Linked DNA regions of Homo sapiens. The protein of the gene in region 5 purifies or fractionates together with the protein of the main gene of each other region. This does not show direct contact. Each region holds a gene or a part of one and is shown on either strand. Other genes may lie near its edges. The genes, in order: CSTA, CHST3, SEMA6A, PLAT, MSMB, DNPEP and TSEN15.

Region 1 (3,500 bases), on a different chromosome or scaffold from region 5:
ATCACCTAGGGTCAGGAGTTCGAAACCAGCCTGGCCAACATGGCAAAACCCTGTCTCTACTAAAAATACAAAAATTAGCTAGGCGCAGTGGTAGGTGCCTGTAATCCCAGCTACTTGGGAGGCTGAGATGGGAGAATCGCTTAAACCTGGGAGGTGGAGGTTGCAGTGAGCCGAGATCACACCATTGCACTCTAGCCTGGGTGACAGAACGAGACTCTGTCTCAAAAAAAAAAAAAAAAAAAAAGTATATATATACACACACACACACACACACACACTTTGTAAAATACTTGATTTAATTTTGAAGTATGAGGGTAGAGATGGAATGTTGGGTTATCAGCAGCCACAGGGAACAAGGAGGCTGGTGAATTGATAGTCCACGATCCAGCCTGCCTATGGTGGGGGTGAGGGTGGTACTATCCTTTAGCCAGTTGCATTAGGCTTGACTAGTTTTTATAAGATTTCCAATTGCCATCAATTTATATGGAGTTTATACTCTAAAGCAATAACACTGATTTTGAGAAAGAAAAGGTAATTTCTGCTTAATACAATAAATGAGAAATAATTGAAGAAATAATTTCTTTGGAAAAGAATGCTTCTTTATTGATGGTTATATTTATCAGCAAGGATCATGACTCAGTAGCCAGTTGAAGGAATCAGAACACTTTGGGTACATGCTGCTAAAAGCCCGTCAGCTCGTCATCCTTGTTTTTGTCAACCTGGTATCCAGTAAGTACCAAGTCCTCATTTTGTCCGGGAAGACTTTTGAATACTTTCAAGTGCATATATTTATTATCACCTGCTCGTACCTGAAAAATATTAAAGAAAGAGAAAGCAAAAGGAGATTCATTCAAATGGGTCTACATCAAGTGAGAGAGCCACAGGTCTACAAAGACTTCTGTCCAAAAAGCTGCTGAGGAACAGCATTGCTAGACCTAGTCCACCATTCTTAGACTCTTTGTATTCATAAATCCACCACCTTATTTTAGGAGAAAAAGAGCAGACTAGGCTGGGTGCCGTGGCTCCCACCTGTAATCCTAGCACTTTGGGAGGCTGAGGCAGGGGGATCACGAGGTCAGGAGTTCAAGACAAGCCTGGCCAGCATGGTGAAATCCCGTCTCTACTAAAAATACAAAAAATTAGCCGGGCATGGTGGTGCATGCCTGTAATCCCAGCTACTCTAGAGGCTGAGGCAGGAGAATCACTTGAACCCAGGAGGAGAAGGTTGCAGTGAGCCGAGATCATGCCACTGTACTCCAGCCTGGGTGATAGAGCAAGAGTTTGTCTTAAAAAAAAAAAAAAATTGTAGACTAATGGCATGGCAAGAGGCATAGGTCCTAGGTTTATTTTGTTATTTTTTTTAGTATAATCTGGGCACAAAGGACAGCATTTTATTTTCAAAGATGCATGGAGCAAGAAAACAAGTGATAGCCTATATTTTTGGTGATACTGTTTTCTGACTCTCAACTTGGGACACTTTGTTTGCCATACAGTCTGATAAGGGAGAAGAAAATCAGAATTGCCCTAGAAAATTTGGGATGCAGGGTTCCCATACCTATATCAGAACCTACTTTATAAACACCCACTGGTAGGATTGAGCAGAGCCCAGGGGGCGGACACCCTCCCTTCTAAAGTGAAGGGGCCAGCCGGGCACTGTGGCTCACGCCTATAATCCCAGCACTTTGGGAGGCCAAGGTGGGTGGATCACCTGAGGTCAGGAGTTTGAGACAAACCTGGCCAACATGGTGAAATCTGGTCTCTACTAAAAATACAAAATTAGCTGGGTGTGGTGGTGCACATCTGTAATCCCAGCTACTTGGGAGGCTGAAGCAGGAGAATCGCTTGAATCCGGGAGGTGGAGGTCGCAGAGAGCCGAGATTGTGCCACTGCACTCCAGCCTGAGTGACAGAGTGAAACTCCGTCTCAAAAAAGAAAAGAAAAAAAAAAGCTAAGGGGTTTTACTAGGAAGTCATTGGTAGGAAGGTTGAAGCAGAAGCAGTAGTTTGGACATGAATCTGAGACCTGGAAAATTATGGTAAGAATTTTTACTTTGGTTCTTGCTGGAGACAATAAATGCTTTGTCTTATACAAATATTTATTGTGCTTCTGATGTCACTTCCTATCCTAATTTTAACAAATGCCATATATCAAATGTTTACTGTGAGCCAGACACTATGATGAACATTTTATATAAATGATTATATTAACCTATATTATAGGCCTGAAGAAAAGTGGAGCAATGAAATTTTTACAGACGTGGAAGCAGAGTAGGAGAGATTAAGTGATTTTCCATAAATCTCTCAGCTAGTCAGTGGCACAGCCAATATTCAAACCCAGATCTGTTAGCCTCTAGCATCTACATTCTTTTCACTCTACAATGTAACATTTTTGGGGGGTACTGATCGGGGAATGAGGCCTGGCTCACAGTGCAGTGGTGCGATCGCAGCTCACTGCAACCTCAAACTCCTCGGCTCAAGTGATCCTCCTACCTCAGCTTCCCAAGTAGCTAGGACTACTGGTGTGCATCACCATGCCTAGGTAATTAAAACATTTTCTTTGTAGAGGCAGGGTCTTGCTATGTTGCCCAGAATGATCTCAAACTCCTGGCTTCAAGCTATCCTCCCACCTTGGCCTCCCAAAGTGTTCGGATTACAGGTATAAGCCACCACACCAGGCCAGTGTAACCTTGTAAAAGCTCTTATTTTGTGCTTTATATTAGAGGCAGCACAGCCAGTAGTTAAGCTCAGTCTATCTGGGTTCAAATCCTGACTCTGCTCTTGTAGTTGTGTGATCTTTTTAGTTTCTTCACCACCCTGGAACTCAGTTTTTTCGTTGGTAACCCAAGAGAAGTGATTGTACTTATCTCATAGATTTGTTGTGAGGATTAAATGAGATAAGCCCTGTTCTTAGAATAGTGCATAGTGAATTATAAGTGCTCAATAAATTTCCAGCTTATTTATTCCTCACAACACGCTGCGAAGTAGATTATTACCCTCATTGTGCAGATAAGGGAATGAAGGCTCAGAGAGGAGGAGGAGCTTCCCATAGAACAAATTGAACAAGGGTTCAAACCCAGGACACTCTGACACCTAAGCTTGTGGTCCTTCCATTCTACCACCTACCTCTTGATAGGTACTTGAAATACATAGAGAAGGTCACATCACTGGCAAGACCTTAAATCTAGAGTGCCTCAGAGCAAAGGGATCAACAGCCAGACTACCAGGAAGTAAAAGGGAACTGGGATCGGTGGCTGAGATCCAGTAGGAAAAGTTTGATAGCAGAAGGAAGAAAAGATGAGAGAGAGAGAGGAGACTGATTAAGAGAGGGCAAAAGGGTGGTCAAGGGAACAAATTTTCAAGCAGAAATTTTCAAGATAGTTATCTGATGAACTGTTGAAGAAACATGTGAGCTGGTAATATGTGAAATTTATGCATTTGAATTAATCATAAATTATTAAATATGTTAATGTTGATGGAATGTTTCCTATCTTTGCACATAAT
Region 2 (3,500 bases), about 26 Mb from region 5:
CCTACAAAGTAAATGAATCTATGAGGGTTTGCTCACAGGTAGGCCCCGTCTTGGAGAGACATAACGGGAAAATTAGCTTTGGTCTATCCACCCTAAAGCAATGTTTAAGAAGCAAAGCTTCTCAGATGCCACAAAATGGAGAAAAGTCTCATCATTCTGCACCATCAAAGTTAAACTCACCAACCAACCAAGACGTCACCGTCTGCCTGCTGGGGAGGGTCCAGGCTTGGGACTGACTCAGAGGGAGCAGGGCTGAGCTGGGACCCCCGGCCGTCTTCTCTCCCATATACATGTTCCTCCTGTGCCCAGCCACCAGCGTCCCTGCAGCACAAGGACTGGCCAGCGGAGGGTGTGTTCCCTGACTTTTGAGGCTCTTAAAGTTAAGGAGGAGGGACTGGGCGGGGAGGGGGCAGGTGTAACCACAGAGGCCAAATAAGAACATCCCGGGCTGGCCTCCGAGGTGGTTGTTTACTTGCGGCATTCAGGAGAGGCTGAACTGGGAACTGGCTTGTTTATTTTCCACACTTTTTCTCCAAATCCTTTTCATAGAGTCCTCTGAAACCTCAGTGATAAATTTCCTAGGGCCCAGGGAAGCCACAGTCCCTCAGCACACAGCCATCTTTGTGAGGAGGTGGTGGGGGGTGAGGGGGATCAAGAGGACGGAGGGCAGCTGGAGACAAGAAGTCACTGGTGGTCAGGGGCTCCCGGGGCCCACCCTGCCCTCCAAGCTGGTGGCGGCCCAGCAGCCACAGGCCAGATTTGGGGCAATAGAGACAGAGGGCTGAAGCGTGTCCACCGGCAAGCACAGAACAAACCGTCCAGGCCTGCCAGGGGCCACCCCACACCCCGCTGTGGAGTCCACGCGCTCAGGGTAGGACCAGCAGCATTCTGTCATCTCTTTAGGCCTTAGAGAAGAAAAGGTGGCAAATATCATTTCTGTTTAACGAATGAAAAGGAGAAGTGTCTCCTCTCCTGAGGCATAACCTCACGAAAGCCAGAGACTCTCTGAGTGTTCCTTCGCAGCAAAGACCCTCTCTGTGCCGCCACTCTAGGAGTTCCCAGCAGAAGCATTCACGGCCCCTCCTGGGGCTTCACCCAGCATCTGACTACATTTCCAAGAACTTCCCATGCCTCAGGCACTGGGATGGAACCAGGGGTACAAAGATGGACAGCCCCGGCCCCTGCAGTGGGGTGGCTTCTCCCCACACCCAGTCCCCCAACTTCCGTCCTGGTCACTGTGTCCCCTCTGCAGTGGAGGGGGAGAGGGCTCCAGTTTCTTTGCAGCTCAGCACTAGGAAGGCTCTAAGAACTCACCCAGGTGGGCTTCCTGTGGAAGGTGGGCAGGGATCAGCTGGGCAGTGCTCATCCAATGCTCTTTGCGTCCTTTGAAGGGCGCCAGCCTTTCCCGTTCTATGGACATCTGTACTGGGGGCTCTCAGGGCAGAGATGAGGGTGGGTGGAGCAGTGAGGACCCTGCCCCAGCAGGGATAACCACTCTCAGCCCTTGGGGCCGGGGATAGAAAATACCACCCCGACTGAAAACGTGGCTGTCCCAGGCCTTTGCAGATGCCTGGCTTCGTGACCTTGGGCATCCACTGCACCTCTCTGAGCCTCATGTCCTCATCTGTAAAGTGGGGCCAACAGATAATTGCTGTCTCCCTGTGGGGCGTGGATGTAAAAGCAAGAGCTGGGGACCAGATGAGCGTGTGGTTATCACCTCCCCTGGCTGCTCCGGCTCTGCCCCATTCTTCTCTCCTGTGGACCAGGTGCTGCTGAGGAGTCCAGCTCTCCAGAACACGTGGCAGGGGTGGGAAGGACAGCTGTGACATGGCCCCTTATGTTCACCAGGTAAATGACAATAGGAGGTGTCAGGTGAAGGCTGATTTCCCCAGGTAATAGATTACCCTGGAGAGGACCAAAAAGGGGAAAAAAATACAGTAACCCATTTGAGGATGTTTGGTCTACCTGGCAATTTCTTCCCTATTCACGGTATGGTCACAAGAGGCAGCTTTGTCCCAACTTCTCAGATAAGCAGTGAGTCATGTCTCACTGGAATTACTGCAACATCTCCCTGTGTGCCCCCCCAAAATCTCCACAGTTTTCTGACTCCAGAGCCACACAGAAGGCTCCAGCAGCCTGGTACCACCCAGCCTTTGATTCCCACAGCCTAAGGTATATCCAGGCTCGGCAGAGTGTATGGAAAAAGAAGAATGCAAGCAGAGGCCCTGGGACCACGTTAGTAAGAAGCATCAGGGCTGTTTCCCTGTTGCCATGGAGAACCAATAAGGGCCTTGCAGACAGCCTGGCATGGTGGAGACAGGGTGGGTTCTGGAGTTAGACAATCTGGGTTCAAATACTGGCTTTGCAATTGCAGCAAAAACAAAAATTGACAAATGGGACCTAATTAAACTAAAGAGCCTCTGCACAGCAAAAGAAACTATCAACAGAGTAAACAGACAACCTACAGAACAGGAGAAAATATTTGCAAACTATGCATCCGACAAAAGTCTAATATCCAGAATCTATAAGGAACTTGAACAAGTTAACAAGCAAAAAACAACCCCATTAAAAAGTGGGCAAAGGACACAAACAGATACTTTTCAAAAGAAGACATACATGTGTCCAACAAACATATGAAAAAACGGTCAACATCACTAATCATTAGAAAAATGCAAATCAAAACCACAATGAGATACCATCTCATACCAGTCAGAATAGCTATTATTAAAAAGTCAAACATTAACAGATGCTGGCCAGGTTGTGGAGAAAAGGGAGTGCTGGCCAAGCGAGGCGGCTCATGCCTGTAATCCCAGCATTTTGCGGGGCTGAGGTGAGCAGATCACGAGGTCAGGAGATCGAGACCATTCTGGCCAACATGGTGAAACCTCGTCTCTACTAAAATACAAAAAAAAAAAAAAATTAGCCACGCATGGTGGTGCACGCCTATCAGGGGGCTGAGGCAGGGGAATTGCTTGAACCTGGGAGGTGGAAGTTGCAGTGAGCCAAGATCGCACCACTGTACTCCAGCCTGGTGACAGAGCAAGACTCCATCCCACCACTCCCACCAAAAACAAAAAACAAAAAACAGAGTGCTTATACACTGCTGATGGGTATGTAAATTAGTTCAGCCATTGTGGAAAGCAGTTTGGAGAGTTCTCAAAGAACTCAAAGTAGGATTACCATTCTACCAAGCAATCCCATTATTGGGTACATACCCAAAATAATATAAATTGTTCTACCATAAAGATACATGCACACGTATGTTTATCATAGCACTAGTCACAATAGCAAAAACATGAAATCAACCTAAATGCCCATCAACGGTAGACCAGATAAAGAAATGTGGTACATATATACCATGAAATACTATGTAGCCATAAAAGAGAATGAGATCATGTCCTTTGCAGCAACATGGATGGAGTTAGCGGCTATTATCCTAAGCAAACTAACACAGGAACAGAAAATCAAGTGCCCCATGCTCTCACTTAGAAGTGGGAGCT
Region 3 (3,500 bases), on a different chromosome or scaffold from region 5:
GCCACAGAGAAGTTAAGTGACTTGTCCAAGGTAGTGAGAGTCTGGAACTCAGGTCTTCTTGTCTCCAAGTGCAGGATCCTCAACAGCAGATATACTGTACGGGTACAGGGCAGAAACATGGGTTAATAAAGTATGCTGTATTCTCCTGATAGAAAGTTGAATTTTAAAACTACTATTAGCAAACTCCAAAAAAACATGAACGTTCTATGGCCAGTGGTTAGAATGCAGAACAAATGAGGCCAGGGTCAAAAGCTCAATCCCCACAAATGCTGGCTGTCTTCTTAGCTCTGTTTCTTGGCAAGTTGATTTTACCTAACTCAGACTCCCTCCAGCTACAACCAGGTGTCTCACAGATGTGTGCTCTTGGACACAGGAGGGGACTGGGTGAGAATGTGGGAATGAACAGGCTCCAATCCATCACTACCACTGGAAAAACAACACAGTGAATGTTCCACTAATGATGCATGAGCCATACCACCTATGTGCTTGGAAGATTGTACACACACACACACACACACACACACATTCATGCATGAAGTACACACACACACATGCATGCATGAAGTATCTCATTTGATAAAAACATGATATAGAAAAACAAAGGCAGACAAAATAGATAAAATAAAGACTAGTTGTTTGCAAAAATGATTCACTGTTTATTCATTCAGCAAACACTTGTTATGGATGGCCCATGATGTGCCAGGCACAGCTTTAGGTGCCAGAGTGAATAAAGCCTAAAAATGTCTATCCTTATGGCATTATGTTCTAGTGGAAGACAGAAAATCAACAAGGACAACATATAGTTTGTCAGACTGTGAAAAATGCTAAGAAAAAAATAAGGACTGCCAAGAGGTGGGGAGTGCTGTGGGAAAGAGTAAAGTAAATAAGGGGATCAAAAGGCTTCACTGAGAAAGTGACATTTGAACAGAGACCTGAAGAATATGAGAAGCAAATCATGTAGCTATCTGGGGAAAGAACCATCCCAAGGCATGAAAGAGTAAGTCCTTGCAAAGGACCCCAAGTATATGCCATGCTTGACAGATTCAAGCAAGCCCAAGGGGTGGAGGTCAGAGAGGTTGGAACCTGAGTGCAGATCATGTGGGGCTGCAAAGGCCATAGGAAGGACTTTGGCTTTTATTGGAAGAAGATGGGAAAACATCTGAGCAAAGTAGTGATCTGATCTGGTTTAGTTTAAAAAAAAAATCACTGCTGTGTTTTGGCTGCTGTGTTGAGAAATGGGCAGAGGCAGGAATGCTAGTGGGGAAGCTGGCATGAAAACCTAGCAGGAGAGGACCATGGCTTGGCCAATTTGAGGGCCACAGAGGAGGAACACCTGAAGGAAGCCTGCAGGTATTCCAAAGGTGGAGCCAACAGCATTGCAGCCACAATGGATGTAGGTGTGACAGAGAAGCTTCAAGGAGAACTAAATTTGGGGGCCGGCAACTCAAAGAATGGAGTTGCCATTTACTATGATGGAGAAGACTATGAGAAAGGCAGATATGGGGGAGAAAGATACAGAATTAGGTTTTTTAAACCTAAGTTTGAGATGTCTATTCAGGAGGAGCTACCTACCCACTAAGCATTGGTTATTTGTGAGGTCCAGGAGAGAGGTCTAAGCTGAAGAGGTTATTTGGGAATCATCTGTGTATTATGGTTTTATATGATACCCTCTATTGGTGTAAATGGAATTATTGTAATAAAGTTTTGCAAGAGCTCATCTGTTTCACAAAGCAAGATACCCTTGTGTATAGACTATATGCAGTAGTCCCATGGTGAGAAGTTGTCCTGAACTCCTCCCCTTGAGGTTTGTGTGGTATGACATCTCATTTGCCCATTTCGAAGGGATTAAATGCCTCCCTCCTTTCTCTATCTTACCATATCCCCAAGAGGCAACCATGTGGTCGCCAGCAGAGAATAGCTCAGTTGCTCTTGCAGCACATTTTAAAGCAGATGAGAAAAGCCTTCACGCTGAAATAGAAATATCTCAGAGAAAACTTGGCTCCAAGGCACCCCAAGAGAGTGGGGGGGGTTCCTGATATGGGAGGGCCCAGCAGAACGCCTCAAGGCATCACCTTCCTCAACATGCACAAATGTGGCTGCCATAACACAAAGCTTCTATATAAATATGTCAAGGAGCACTCCTCTACTCTAGGAGGACAGAAAATTGTCTAAACCTAAAGAAGGGTGTGGAGAGGGGCAGTGCAGAGATAGGCTTTCCTAGGCATTGCCTTACACAAATGGCAGATGCTTAATTAAAGCATTTGCAATTAGCTTAGCTTGTTCTGTGATTCCTTCCTGCAAACAAATAAGATGGAGAGACTATATTAGCTCTTGGCAATCTAGTTCTAAAAAAACTTTCATCCCATCATCACTCTTTTGTCCTGTTCTGAAAAGCGCTGAACCACAATGTACACAGAATAAACTATCTGACTTAACTCCTGGTTCAAAATAGTATTTTTCCTTCCATTTCATATAGGAGTGCAACTACCCATTTACTTTTAAAGCATAACTACTTATTTTGAATTTAATACAAGTTCTTAATTTGGATGCCTCATTTTTATTTGGTGAAGATAACAGTCTTCCTAATTCTTGCTACACTTCTGATTCAACACATTAGACTTCACTAGTGCAATGTTACCCGCCTACTCAAAATACAACTGCTATATGTGTTTAATGTTGGAAAAAGCATTTACTAGATTTTGGAAGAACTTGAGGGGTGTGTGTTGTGTGTAAATAAAAAGGTGCACTTATTGCCGCCTTATCATAACCACTCACTTGAAGGCATATATTTTTTTTTTCACTGTAGGGAAAATAAAGAAGTCCACTTTAAGTGGACAAACATGAACCATGTGTGACTATTTATTTCATTCATTCGACATTTACTTGAGTGTTCTATACTGGTTCTTATAAAATTTTTACCTATTTAAGCTTAGTTGTTATGTCCAATAAGTATATTCAGCTGATGGCTCCTCAGAAATGATTTTCGGTATCTGCTTAACATTTACATATGTGGATTATATGCGTTATTGAAAATGTAGCACATCTCTAAAAGGTGATAGCTGCAAAACCTAACATATGGGGAAGGTTGTCACCCACAAACACTGTACATCAGAAACATAAAGTAGAATGCTTCTTTACATCAAGTTGAAAAATGACTCATAACCAAAAGTAAGATTTTAAATTTGATGTTCGTTCTTTTCTGCTTTAAACTGGTTTGCAAAGTGCCTCATTCAAGAACGTCCCAAAACCAAAATAATAACAGGGAGTAAGGGTTACTCAAGATTCAAATAAAAGTTACCATACAAACAAGCATGGGTAAACCAAATTCAAATAGCTAGTGCAATTATTTTTTAATAGATAGTTTAGGTTAATAGGTGGAGACATAGTTCTGCCACTGTATTTAAGGTTAGGTTAATAATTAACTTTGGTGCCTGGAGTAGTTTAATCAAAGCTTACTGTAAATCATAAAACTGCTCCATGTAGACTAAACACAGCATTAA
Region 4 (3,500 bases), on a different chromosome or scaffold from region 5:
CTATGTATCTATCATCTATTTATCTATCAATCATCTATCAATCTATCATCTATCTATCACCTATCATCTGTCTATCTGTCATCCATCTACCGTCTATTTATCATCTATCTATCATGTATGTATCATCTATTTATCTAATCTATCACCTATCATCTATCATCTATCAATCTATCATCTATCACCTATCATCTATTATCTGTCTATCATCTATCCATCTATCCATCCTGTATTGGTTATGTTTCTTGGGAGAACCCTGACGGATCTGACAGAATCTTTCCCCAGCTGTAGCAGCTTCTCACAGGGGGAATCCCTCCTTGGGGATGTGCCCTCACCTGCAGTAGTTGTGGTTCCCCAGGCCCAGCCTGATGGCGTCTGGCCTCCGCCCGCTGTAGGGCTTCTGGGCCAACGCGCTGCTGTTCCAGTTGGTGCACTCGGCGCCACTCTCCGCTGTGCTCCACGTGCCCCTGTAGCTGATGCCCTGGTCCTCGTAGCACGTGGCCCTGGTATCTGACAGAGAGCAGGGCATGGATGCCTCACATGGGAGTCCCCTTTCATTCAGCCCTCAGGAGGCTCCCCTCTCTGCCCCGTCCTCCCCCAGGCCTGATGCAGGCTGGCTCGGAAGCCACAGGCTGGGTGGCAAGGGTGCCAGCCTGGATTCAGGGTCACACCTAGGCTCTGCTTGCTGTGTGGCACTGTGCTTCCTGACCCATGGCAGAAGCGCCTTCCCTGTCCCTGGCCCCCACCCCTGGCCCTGCCATCGCACCCTGCCTTTCCTTCCGGGGGCGGGGGAGACTGGAGAGGTGGGATTTCAGCTCGTTTCACGTGCTCTCACCTACTCACCTATTTCACAGCACTTCCCAGCAAATCCTTCGGGGCACTGGCACACGAAATCTGAGAAGTACAGGGCCTGCTGGCAGGTGCCCCCGTTGAAACACCTTGGCTCGCTGCAACCTGTCAAGTATAAAAAAGGAAGCCCCTAATGACAGCCTCCTTCTGTGTGCTCAGGCCATGGTTCCAGGAGCCCTGTCTACCACAATCCACACACACTCAAGTCCTGCAGCGTGGAACACGCGTATACCAGTTCTGCATCCTACAAATACTGTTTTCATCCTGCCTTTGGTTGAAAAAAATCCATACATAAGTGGACCCTGCAGGTCAGACAAGTGTTGTTCAAGGGTCCCCTGTATTTTCAAAGCAGCTCCAAGGATGATGTGAGTTAAAATATTAAGAATGTGCTCTATGTGCCAGGCGCTGTTGTACAGTCTACAAAAATTAGCTAATTTAATCCTCACAGCAAACCATGAAGTGTGTACTGTTATTCCCACCTCTTTATAGATGAGGAAACTGAGGCAAGCGGGCATTTGCCCAAGGTCACTTGGTCTTGCTCCCTTTTCTGCTTGTACCTTCACCTCCGCCTAAGGCCGAACAGGCCTGGAGGCTCCTTTTGAAGATTTGAACTTTCCGGGGACCATGAAAGACAGGGTTCATGACTGGACCCCTGAACTCGAAGTCTCAGTTTGAAGTCGATTTGTACTGGGCTTTTCTGTGTTTTTGTTTTTGTTTGTGTTGTTTTGTTTTGTTTTAGAGGTGAGGGCTTGCCCTGTCACTGAGGTTGAAATGCAGTGGCACAATCGTAGATTACTGCAGCCTCCAACTCCTGGGCTCAAGTGATCCTTCTGCCTCAACCTCCCAAGTAGTTGGGACTACATACCAGGTCTGGCTAATTTTTTTATTTTTTGTAGAGACAGGGGACTTGCTATGTTTGCCCAGATTGGTCTTGAACTCCCGGGCTCCAGCGACCCTCCCACCTTGGCCTCCTAAAGTGCTGGGATCACAGGCATGCACCACCTCCCAGCCTCAGTACATACTTTTGACAGGCACTGAGTGGCACTGTGCCCTGCCACTGTTGCACCAGCAATATTCCACCCGGTTGCTTCTGAGCACAGGGCGCAGCCATGACTGATGTTGCTGGTATATCATCTGCGTTTTTTCATCTCTGCAGATCACTATGAGAAAAGACAGGCCAGCCTCATCAGAGTATGACTCAAAATGAAATGCCTCACTACCCTTGCACCTACTGAGAAAACTCCCTCACTTGCTTTCTATAGACTCCATTGCATACTCCCTTATTGAAGAGACACAACTGGAAGACAACAAGATAATGAATACTGGCCAAACACGGTGACTGATGCTGGTAATCCCAGCACTTTGGGTGGCCGAGGTGGGTGAATCACTTGAGCTCAGGAGTTCGAGACCAGCCTGGCCAACATGGTGAAACCCTATCTCTACTAAAAATACAAAAATGAGCCAGGCATGGTGGCAGGTGCCTGTAATCCCAGCTACTCAGGAGGCTGAGGCAGGAGTATTGCTTGAACCCAGGAAGTGGGGGTTGCAGTGAGCCGAGATTGTACCACTGCACTCCAGCCTGGGCGACAGAGCAAGACTCCATCTCAAAATAAAATAAAATAAATTTGCATTTCTTTTCTGAGTGCCATTGAGTATCTTCTCATATGATTTATTTATTTATTATTTATTTATTATTATTATTTTTGAAACAAAGTCTCACTCTGTCGCCCAGGCTGGAGTGAAGTGGCACAATCTCGGCTCACTGCAACCTCCACCTCCTGGGTTCAAGTGATTCTCCTGCCTCAGCCTCCCGAGTAGCTGGGATTACAGGTGCCCGATACCATGCCCGGCTAATTTTTGTATTTTTGGTAGGGACGGGGTTTCACCATATTGGACAGGCTGGTCTCGAACTCCTGATCTCAAGTGATCCACCCACCTCGGTCTCCCAAAGTGCTGGGGTTACAGGCATGAGCCACCGTGCCCAGCCTAATTTTTTCTTTTCTTTTCTTTTTCTTTTTTTTTTTCGAGGGTCTCTGTCACCCAGGCTGGAGTCCAATGGTGCTGTCTTGGCTCACTGCAACCTCTGCCTCCCAGGCTCAAGCAGTCCTCCTGCGTCAACCTCCCAAGTAGCTGGGACTACAGGTGCACACCACCACACCCAGCTAATTTTTAAATTTTTTTGTAGAGGCGGGGTGGGGTGGGGGAGGCAGAGGTGTCTCACTATGTTGCCCATGCTGGTCTTGAACTCCTGGGCTAAAGCCATCCTCCTGGATCCGCCTCCTAAAGTGCTGGAGTTACAGATGTGAGCCATTGCACCTGGACTTTTTCTCATTGTAATTCACCAAAAAATATATATATGCATAACTGTCTACCAGAGTTTTTTATCCACATAAGTATTACCACACAGAAATGATGCATTTTTGGCCCCAAAGAAAATTGACATTTTAGACTTTGCAGAAAATGTGCTACTTCTCCAAGTATTTTTGGCATAATGAAAATAGTTGAAGTACTCCCATTAATATTTTCATGCCATCTTTCTGTTTTCAAGCCAGAATGCCAACTTAAAAAACAACAACTTTACTTTCAATTAATTAAAGAAGTAGCACGTGCCCACTGTAAGTCAGACCCTTGCTGCTTCTGAGGTCACTGAGGCC
Region 5 (3,457 bases):
ACCCACTGCACCCTCTATGGGACGCTGCCCAGATCTCAAGGTGCTCGGTGGCAGTGGAGCCTGAGGCTGGGGGCCCAGGCAGAGGCTCCCAGGTAGGGCATGGGAGATGTCCTGGGCTCCACGCTGCCCGGGCCCAGGGCTGGCTCCCTGACTTGGGTGAGGAAAAGGGAGTGGGAGACAAAAGGCCAAGGTCATCCAGCCACTGACTCTGGTTAGCTGAATACCCGATGTTGACAGTTTCTCCCTCCCTCTCTCTCTCTGCTGTTTCCTCTATAGAGCTAAGTCTGGTTTGCATTGAAATAAGCATGCAGTAATATGCCTTTTGCCTTACCAACTTGTATTTGCACACAGGCAGCACAGATTCACCATTTCACTTCCTACCATGAACTAAAAGAATTGTATCTCTTCAACAAACACCACTTTATTTTTAACCTTTTTTTTTTATTGTGGTAAAATGTATACTACATAAAATGTGCCAGTGTAACCATTTTAAAACATACAATTCAGCGGCATTAAGTACATTCACAGTACTATGCAACCATAAACACTATTTCCAAATCTTTTTAATGACTCCAATCTGAAACTCTATATCCATTAAACAATAACTCAGATTCCCTGTCCCCCAAACCTGTGGTAATCTCAAGTCTACTTTCTGTCTCTATGAATTTGCCTACTCTAGATATTTCACATAAATACAATCACACTGTGTTTGTCTTTTCGTGTCTGGCTTATTTCACTCAGCATGTTGTCAAGGTTCATTCATGTTGTAGCATGTATCAGTACTTCATTCTTGTTTCTGCCAGAATAATATTCCATGGCATGGTCATACCACATTTTGCTTATCCATTTATTTGTTGAACACTTGAGTTGCTTCTGCCTGTTGGATAAAGTAAGTAATGTTGTTCTGAACATTGGCATACAGTGTTTGTCAATATACAAACATTGGCATATAATGTTTGAGTCCCTGCTTTCAATTCTTTTGGGATATATACCCAGGAGTAGCTTTCTGGGTCATATGGTAATTTTTTGTTTAACTTATTGAGGAGCTGCCAAGCTGTTTTCCACAGCAGCTGCACCATTTTACATTCCTACCAGCCAGCAATCACCTTTAAACATGAAAAACATGAAAGGTTTTAAATGATATTTCCCAATTTTCTAAGTAAACATATGAATTATAGAATCATTGGGAAGCATAAGAGAAAAAAGAAGAAATACCTACTCATAATCCCAACTGTGTAAAGGTAATAACTATTAACATTCTATTTTTATTTATTTATTTATTTGTATTAAAAAAATTAAGACAGGGTCTCACTATGTTGCCCAAGCTGGTCTCAAACTCCTGGGATCAAGCTGTTGTCTCACCTCAGCCCCAAGTAGCTGGGATTACAGGCATGTGCCACCATGCCTGGGCTTCTATCATCATTTATTTTCTTTTTTTTTTTTTTGAGATGGAATCTTGCTCTGTCGCCCAGGATGGAGTGCAGTGGTGTGATCTCTGCTCACTGCAAGCTCCGCCTCCTGGGTTCACGCCATTCTCCTGTCTCAGCCTCCTGAGTAGCTGGGACTACAGGCGCCTGCAACCACGCCCGGCTAATTTTTTGTATTTTTAGTGGAGACGGGGTTTCACCGGTTTAGCCAGGATGGTCTCGATCTCCTGACCTCGTGATCCGCCCGCCTCGGCCTCCCAAGGTGCTGGGATTACAGGCGTGAGACACAGCGCCCGGCCCTATCATCATTTCTTTATGTCTCTTTTCTATATGTTTTTTCTTTTACATAGTGGATATCAAATTTTATATCACAGTTTTGTGGGCTGATTTTTCCACTTAATATTCTAGCACTGGGCTGGGCATGGTGTCTCACGCCTGTAATCCCAGCACTTTGGGAGGACAAGGTGGGTGGATCATTTGAGGTCAGGAGTTCGAGACCTGCCTGGCCAACATGGTGAGACCTCCCCCGCGCCGACCCGCCATCTCTACTAAAAATATAAAAATTAGCTGGGTGTAGTGGTGTGCTCCTGTAATCCCAGCTACTCAAGAGGCTGAGGCAGGAGAATCGCTTAAACCTGGGAGACGGAGGCTGAAGTGAGCTGAGATCGTGCCACTGCACTCCATCCTGGGTGACAGAGTGAAATTCATCTCAAAAAATTAAAGTAATAATAGTAATAATACATAAATATTCTAGCATTAGTATCATCTCATCTCATCAGAACTCTTCAAAATATTTGTATGTACTGCAGCTCAATTAGAGGTGGTCTCTGACTTTCATCAGCTTCTCCCTGGGCTCCATGACACTGGCCTGGAGTGACTCATTGCTCTGGTTGGTTGAGAGAGCTCCTTTGCCAACAGGCCTCCAAGTCAGGGCTGGGATTTGTTTCCTTTCCACATTCTAGCAACAATATGCTGGCCACTTCCTGAACAGGGAGGGTGGGAGGAGCCAGCATGGAACAAGCTGCCACTTTCTAGAGTAGCCAGACTTGCCCCTGGGCCTGTCAGCACCTACTGATGACCTTCTGTGCCTGCAGGATGGAATGTAGGGGTGAGCTGTGTGACTCTATGGTACAGACTGGTCCAGGTTCCTGGAGGTCACACTCTGGGGCTGCCAGCCAAAGGGTGCCCTTAAGTTGGAGTGTGGGTGACTTCCTGAACAGAGCTGGCACTGGGGAGGGGGTGCTCGGGGTCCTTTCTCTTCTAACAGGCCCCAGTTTTGTCTCAATGACAGTGTTTCTACACCTGTGGGTTATGACAAAGACAACTGCCAAAGAATCTTCAAGAAGGAGGACTGCAAGTATATCGTGGTGGAGAAGAAGGACCCAAAAAAGACCTGTTCTGTCAGTGAATGGATAATCTAATGTGCTTCTAGTAGGCACAGGGCTCCCAGGCCAGGCCTCATTCTCCTCTGGCCTCTAATAGTCAATGATTGTGTAGCCATGCCTATCAGTAAAAAGATTTTTGAGCAAACACTTGAATATGTGTGTCCTTTTAATTTATAATTTATGTATGCATTGATTTAATACACATTATAAAGAATACAAAACATTTAAAAAGGGAGACAAAACTACATATGAATGGCCGGGCACAGTGGCTCATGCCTATAATCCCAGCACTTTGGGAGGCCAAGGCAGGCGGATCATTTGAGGTCAGGGGATCGAGAACAGCCTGGCCAACATAGTGAAACCCCGTCTCCACTGAAATACAAAATTAGCGTGGTGGCAGGCACCTGTAGTCCCAGCTACTCGGGAGGCTGAGGCAGGAGAATCACTTGAACCCGGGAGGCGGAGGTTGCAGTGAGCCAAGATCACATCAGTGCACTCCAGCCTGGGTGACAGAGTGAGACTCCGTCTCAAAAAACAAGCAAACAAACAAACAAACCCAAACCCAAACAAAACAAAACAAAACAAAATACATATGAATAAAAGTTCTATTTTTCCTAAACTCTATAATAGGTCATTGTGCATCCC
Region 6 (3,185 bases), on a different chromosome or scaffold from region 5:
CTTGCTTTGTCTCCCAGGCTGGAGTGCAGTGGCATGATCATAGCTCACTGCACCCTCAAACTCCTGAGCTCAGAAGATCTTCCTGCCTCAGTCTCCCAAGTAGCTGGGACTACAGATGCATGCCACCATGCTGGCTAATTTTCTATTTTTAGTAAAAATGGGGTTCTTGCTATGTTGCCCAGGCTGGTCTTGAACTCCTGGCTTCAAGCAGTCCTCCCACCTTGGCCTCCCAAAGTGCTAGGATTACAGGCATGAGCCACCATTCCCAACCCCATTTCAGGAAATTGTTGTTTCAGTAAACTTGTACCTCATCTAATGCACAGATCACTTTCCGTTTTCCCCAGTTATCCTCAAAATATTTTTTTTACAGGTATTTGGCCCACCCTAGTATCCAACTCAGGACAATGCGTTATATTTGGCTGATATGTTGCTTAAATGTCTTCCAGTGTAGCACAGTTCCCCCCACCCCTTTTTAAATAGCATTGGCTTATTCAAGAAACTTCTGGATATGTCTCCTTGCTGCCCCATGGTGTCATTTAGCTTGTCTGTAAGCCCCGTATTTCCTATCAACTGGAATTTCTAAAGACTTGATGGATTCAAGTTAAACTTTTTTTTTTTTTTTTTTTTTTTTTTTTGACAGAGTGAGAGTTTCACTCTGTCGCCCAGGCTGGAGTCTAATGGCGTGATCTCGGCTCATTGCAACCTCCGCCTCCCTGGTTCAAGTGATCCTTCTGTCTCAGCCTCCAAAGTAGCTGGGATTACAAGTGTGCACCACGATGCCCAGCTAATTTTTGTATTTTTAGTAGAGACAGGGTTTCACCATATTGGCCAGACTGGTCTTGAACTCCTGACCTCAAGTGGTCCGCCCACCTCAGCCTCCCAAAGTGCTGGGATTACAGGTGTGAGCCACCGTGCCTAGCCTCAAGTTAAACATTTTGGGCTAGAAGACATGGCTGGTGTATTCATATGGCATCACACACATGATATCTGGGTGGGCCACCCTTAGCCTTGCAAAGATTGACCACTGGACCAGGAATGGCCTCTTATCCTTTCATTATATAGTGCTTTTCCCCTATTGACCTGACAGTGACCCATACAAGTGATGAGTTCCCTATTAACCAGATACCTAATGGTTTTAACACTTACAATAATCCTTGTCTAAATCAGTAATTTCATTAGAATTTACCGAAAAATGCCCGCTTCCCCTGAATTCTTTCAGTCTTCCATTCTTCTGTGAAGTGGAACTTCTTCCCTCCAATCAACTAGGGTTCTTTGGTTATCATGGAATATCATTCCTATTGATTGGAAAGCAGGATAAATGCTAATTCTTTCTGTTATCCACTTTTCAAGGTGAAATGTCGTCTCAAATAGTGACAAAGAAAGATTTTTCCTTTTCCTTTTTTTTTCTTTTTCTTTTTTTTTTTTTAGACAGGGTCTCGCTCTGTTGCCCAGGCTGGAGTGTAGTGTCGCAATCTCAGCTCACTGCAACCTCCTCCCCACAGGTGCAAGAGAGTCTCATACCTCAGCCACCTGAGTAGCTGGGATTACAGGCATGCACCACCATGCCCGGCTGTTTCTTGTATTTTTAATAGATACAGGGTTTCACCATGTTGGCCAGGCTGGTCTTGAACTCCTGGAATCATGTGATCTGCACACCTTGGCCTCCCAAAGTGCTGGGATTACAGGCGTGAGCCAGCACACCTGGCCTGCTTTTCCCTTTCTGACTATCTTAGAATCATGGAATTTCATTTATTCAGTGTCCTCTATAATTATTATATTTGATTTGTGAATTGCCATGGCTTTGACCAGTGGGAGCCCCTTCAGCATAACTCCTGTGCCCTTTGACTCTTGGAAGTCTCCTTGCTTTTTGGCACAACAAAAATTGTAGACATGTCTTGTTCATTTCGCCCCCCAGACTTGGTAGTTTTTGGCAAGCAGTGGTATTAGAGACCATAGCCTGGCACTGCAAGTGTTCATTGTTCTTGGGGGAGGGGACGGTGCTTTGGGTCCATTTCCATGGACATAGCAAGAAAAAAGTACATATTTTAAAAATCATGAAGCCAGGTGTGGTAGCTCAGGCCTGTAATCCCAGCACTTTGAGAGGTAGTGGATCACTTGAAGTCAGAAGTTCGAGAACAGCCTGGCCAATATGGCAAAATCTCGTCTCTACTGAAAATACAATAATTAGCTGAACGTGGTGGTGCGTGCCTGTAATCCCAGCTACTTGGGAGGCTGAGACAGGAGAATCGCTTGAACCCAGGAGGCAGAGGTTGCAGCGAGCTGAGATTGCGCCACTGCACTCCAGCCTGGGCATCGCAGGGAGACTCCATCTCAAAATAAATAAATAAAATAAAATAAAAATTTTTAAATAAAAATCATGAGTTAATACTGTAATTCTTATTCATAAAATTATTCTTATTTAGTTAAATAGTTACTACCTATTTGATTTTGTAATTCTGTTTTCTCTTACACTGAAAACCTTGATATCTAGCATCATATTTTCATTTTCTTATTTTTTTACCATAATATAAAGAAAATCATTTCAAAATGTCAGTAGCAATATTTTTAAAGACACTGATACCACTGAGTGATTTTTTTCTGTGAGTGTGGATATTAAGCAAGAGGGTGACAAGGATGGATACTTTTAAAAATCCCCCTTCCTGCTGTGTGGAGAATGGATTGGAACTAGGGTGGTGGCAATGCAGATAGAATGGGACCAATTCAGAATATATTGTCCTTTGGGGTCTGCCATTTAGCATTGGCTTTGATTTTATGCTCCGAATGGACCATCTCCCAGGCCCCTTCCCACCCTGCAATTCTAAGATGGCGTCCTCCTTGGCTCTGATAAGCACACACTGCATGTTGCTCATGGGTCTCCTGCTCTCCCTAGGATCTCATGGTCCGGAATGACACCCCCTGTGGAACCACCATTGGACCTATCTTGGCTTCTCGGCTGGGGCTGCGGGTGCTGGATTTAGGCAGCCCCCAACTGGCCATGCACTCTATCCGGGAGATGGCCTGCACCACAGGAGTCCTCCAGACCCTCACCCTCTTCAAGGTAACACCCACCCCAGACCCTCTCTGGCAGCTGGGCTGCTTCCCCTCTAGTGCCTGGATTGGTTGCTGGGACAACATCGCCATCACAAAGTGACTGGCCTGAGTAATGGGGGCTGGTTGTCATGCTG
Region 7 (3,500 bases), on a different chromosome or scaffold from region 5:
TCCAACTAATTCTACTTGAAGAAGAAAACAAGCTTTAGCCATTCAAGCTAGAAAAGCATTAATTACCACCTGGAAAATACTAGAAATTAACAATGGAAACAAATTTGTACTTCTAGACTTATGAAATGATTTTGATTAAAATAGGCTATTGCTTTCATTAATTTTATTTTTTAGGAATAAATGCAGGTTAATTTCAAATAGTAGCTCCTTGTCCAAACAAATAATATAACATTAATACTAGCTAGGACAATATTTGTTACAGTAATTAAAAGACAGAAGTAATGAGTTCTGAGGAATGAATTAAGACTCTTGGATATAGGATGGCTTGGAAATCATGCTAGTAAAAACCGGAAAGTACTAGCGATTAAATCTGATGTCAATGCTAACAACTATTTGTAATTCTCAAACACAGAGAAAACAGTAAGGAGCTTCTCAAAGAAGCATATGAATAGACTGACATATTAAAAAACAATTCTCATTATGAATAATAAATACAAAAAATACTTCATAGAAATCTGCAAATTTAGTTTAATATGGCTTTATGAAATATGCACAATGAAAATAACCAGTTACAGCAGCTTTAATTTAGAAGGGATCTTGCATGTACTGGTAATCTAAATCCCTCAACAACAAAATAAGACGAGGAAACTGAAACCCAGAGAAATTAGGTGTGTTGCTAAACATCAAACAAAATGTTAAGTGTCAGTCCCAAGACTAGAACCCAGGTCTTAAGACTTTATAGTCTGGGGCTCTTTCTACTAGACTGCTATGTATTCAGTCATAGTCAGCTAGAAAAAATGTTAAGTATTCATCAACGGTATTCATGCTGGAATTTAAGAGGCTCTGCTCTTTTCCCTACTTATATGCCACCCAAATAGAGCTGTGTTTTCATTTGTTCATTCTTCCCATACCCCACTCTCAGAGGTTTACAGCACCCCTTTACATGCTCAATATTACTCTCCTCCACTATCCTCTTGAATCCATCCTTCCTCATCTCTCAAGAATCTTGCTCCATCAATAATTGTCATCTCTTTTCTATTTTCAGACTTTCTGTAGGACAGCTCACGTGGCAGCTGGCTTCCTTTATAGTAAGCAAGAGAGAGTGCCCAAGATAGAAGCCACAGTCTTTTGTAACCTAATCTTAGAAGTTACATTCCTATCATTTTTGCCAAATTTTATTCATTAGAAAGAAGTCACTGAGTCCAGGTCACACTCAAGGGAAGAGAGTTACATAAGGGAGTGAATACCAGAATTAGGAGAAGCCATCTTAGAAGCTGCCTGCTACAGCTTCTAAAGAAGAAATGCATAAGGGAGGCTTGCTAACCAGATACCAAGACTTCTTACCAAGCAAGCGATTAAGAGATATGGTATTGGCAAAAGGACAGATAAACTGGCTAATGGAATATAATAGAGAACCCAGAAACAAATTAATGCATGTTTGGAACTTTGGAAAGTAGCAGAAGTGATATGTCAGATAGTGAGGAAAGGAGGGACTATTCAGTAAATGGAGGTAGAAAAAGTGGTTATCCACATGACAATGGTATCCCTAACCGCCTCTCACACCATTAAAAACAAGAACAATAGAACTCTTAGTGAAAATATAAGTATTTTTTAGACCGTTAGATAGAAAATATTTCTTAAACTAGACACAAAGACGTTGATTATAAAAGATGGATAAATATGATTATATTCAAATTAAGAACTGTTACTCATTGAAAGACATCTTAAGACAGTGAAAGACAGACTTAAAAACTGGAAAACACAATAAAAAAACTATTAGGTCAAGAATATATAAAGAATTCATACAAGTCAATGAGAAAACTAAAAACAACCCAACAGGCAAAAGATATGAACAGATATTTCTTATAAATAATACATATATAAAGAAATATTCAGTATTATGAGTAATAAGGGAAATGTAAATTAAGACCAAAATAAGAATAATCCATTCCATTGGCAAAAATTTAAAAGTCTGACAATACTAAATGTGAGAGACAATACAGCTCCAAAGGATCTTATTTACACTGCAGGTGAAAAGTAAATTGAGGCAACCACTTTGAAAATAGTTTGAAATTATCTCCTAAAGTTAAACATTAGCAACACTCCATCATCGAGGGAGTGGATGTAAAAATGGTGGTATAATCACACAATGGAATGTTATGTGGCAGCTCAAAAAATGCACAAGAATGGATGAATTTTAGTAATATAATATTAAGTGTATAAGGTCAGCCTTAAAAGATAAGATTTTTTAATTAAAGTTAAAAACATCTAAAATTTAAAAATTCCCAATGTACATGGAATTCAGAATGAGTTACCTCAGGTCAGTGAAAGCACGTTAAGGAAGGGACTTATAAGATTAGATGTTAGTTATTATCAAGAATCTAGTTTTGCTTTGGGTGATGGGTACAGAGATACTTATTACATTATTAAAAATAACTAAGTAAATAAATAAAAACCAAGCATGAACTAATAATGAGAGTATGTCATGAAACAAAGACATGTTTAATCCAATGCTGTGTACCTAAGCTTTTTAAAAAAAGGTCCTAAAAAAAGTCTCTTTTTTAAAGCTTTTAAAAAAAGCTACATGAAAATTTGATTTCAGCTTGCATGTTAATCATGCTTTTCACCAACTGCTATATAAAGTATAATTTGTATTACATGGTACATCTTATAACAGCTGTTATTTCATATGTAATGGTCTTGCTTCCTTACCAAGAATATAAATATTTCTACCATACATACTGTCTCTGAAAAAGTACTGACCATAGAGTAAGTGCTAAATAAATACTTGTTGAATGCTTGATATACTTTGTATATTTGTTCCTGCCCAAATCCCATGTTGAACTGTAATCCCCAATGTTGGAGGTGGGGCCTGGTGGGAGATGTTTGGGTTATAGGGGTAAATCCTTCATGGCTGAGTGCTGTCTTCAGGACAATGAGTTCTCGTGAGATCTGGTCATTTAAAAGTGTGTGGAACCTCCCCCTCAACACTCTCTCTCACTCCTGCTTTTGCCATATGATGTGCCTGCTCTTGCTTCACGAACTTCCTCCATGATTATAAGCTTCCTGAGGCCTCCCTAGAAGCCGAGTAGATGCCAGCACCATGCTTACTGTAAAGCCTTCAGAACTATGAGCCACTTAAACCTCTTCTTTTTTTTTTAAGAAATTACTCAGTCTCAGGTATTTCTTTATAGCAATGCAAGAATGGCCGAATACAACACTCATATTTAACTTATTCCTCAAATAGCCAAGAGTAAAGCTATGAACCCTGTATCCCAAATTTCATTAAAAGTATTACATCACTATGTTTAATGTTTCCTACTGCTTTACTCGGGAAAGGAACTTAGACCAAAATCACCTGCTCACCTGTTATGGCTGAGGGAAGCAGTGATGGGGGTAGGCACCACAGTCTGTAACCCCTCCCCTTCTATCTCAGTACCAACAAGGCAGATGAGCTGGAGTTCTGGTAATCCTACACAGTTTACTTCATGCCAGCTTTT

What was found.
Region 1: the proteins of MSMB (region 5) and CSTA purify together in Homo sapiens (affinity purification with mass spectrometry, with the first as the bait; one large-scale study listed by BioGRID). This does not show direct contact.
Region 2: the proteins of MSMB (region 5) and CHST3 purify together in Homo sapiens (affinity purification with mass spectrometry; one large-scale study listed by BioGRID and IntAct). This does not show direct contact.
Region 3: the proteins of MSMB (region 5) and SEMA6A purify together in Homo sapiens (affinity purification with mass spectrometry; one large-scale study listed by BioGRID and IntAct). This does not show direct contact.
Region 4: the proteins of MSMB (region 5) and PLAT purify together in Homo sapiens (affinity purification with mass spectrometry; one large-scale study listed by BioGRID and IntAct). This does not show direct contact.
Region 6: the proteins of MSMB (region 5) and DNPEP purify together in Homo sapiens (affinity purification with mass spectrometry; one large-scale study listed by BioGRID and IntAct). This does not show direct contact.
Region 7: the proteins of MSMB (region 5) and TSEN15 purify together in Homo sapiens (affinity purification with mass spectrometry; one large-scale study listed by BioGRID and IntAct). This does not show direct contact.

Annotation. Positions count from the first base shown.
Region 1 is NC_000003.12:122,338,748-122,342,247, reverse strand, and holds the end of CSTA (cystatin-A), read right to left. Parts: intron 810-3,500; coding exon 681-809; 3' UTR 279-680; downstream 1-278. UniProt on the Homo sapiens protein: This is an intracellular thiol proteinase inhibitor. Has an important role in desmosome-mediated cell-cell adhesion in the lower levels of the epidermis.
Region 2 is NC_000010.11:71,967,395-71,970,894, reverse strand, and holds part of CHST3 (carbohydrate sulfotransferase 3), read right to left. Parts: intron 342-3,500; exon of another isoform or gene 181-341; intron 1-180. UniProt on the Homo sapiens protein: Sulfotransferase that utilizes 3'-phospho-5'-adenylyl sulfate (PAPS) as sulfonate donor to catalyze the transfer of sulfate to position 6 of the N-acetylgalactosamine (GalNAc) residue of chondroitin.
Region 3 is NC_000005.10:116,568,324-116,571,823, forward strand, and holds part of SEMA6A (semaphorin-6A isoform 2 precursor), read right to left. Parts: intron 1-3,500. UniProt on the Homo sapiens protein: Cell surface receptor for PLXNA2 that plays an important role in cell-cell signaling. Required for normal granule cell migration in the developing cerebellum.
Region 4 is NC_000008.11:42,187,066-42,190,565, forward strand, and holds part of PLAT (tissue-type plasminogen activator isoform 1 preproprotein), read right to left. Parts: intron 2,007-3,500; coding exon 1,869-2,006; intron 952-1,868; coding exon 841-951; intron 508-840; coding exon 333-507; intron 1-332. UniProt on the Homo sapiens protein: Converts the abundant, but inactive, zymogen plasminogen to plasmin by hydrolyzing a single Arg-Val bond in plasminogen.
Region 5 is NC_000010.11:46,032,813-46,036,269, reverse strand, and holds the end of MSMB (beta-microseminoprotein isoform a precursor), read left to right. Parts: intron 1-420; exon of another isoform or gene 421-877; intron 878-2,718; coding exon 2,719-2,848; 3' UTR 2,849-2,957; downstream 2,958-3,457.
Region 6 is NC_000002.12:219,374,728-219,377,912, reverse strand, and holds part of DNPEP (aspartyl aminopeptidase), read left to right. Parts: intron 1-2,890; coding exon 2,891-3,058; intron 3,059-3,185.
Region 7 is NC_000001.11:184,054,730-184,058,229, reverse strand, and holds part of TSEN15 (tRNA-splicing endonuclease subunit Sen15), read right to left. Parts: coding exon 3,367-3,500; intron 70-3,366; exon of another isoform or gene 1-69. UniProt on the Homo sapiens protein: Non-catalytic subunit of the tRNA-splicing endonuclease complex, a complex responsible for identification and cleavage of the splice sites in pre-tRNA. It cleaves pre-tRNA at the 5' and 3' splice sites to release the intron.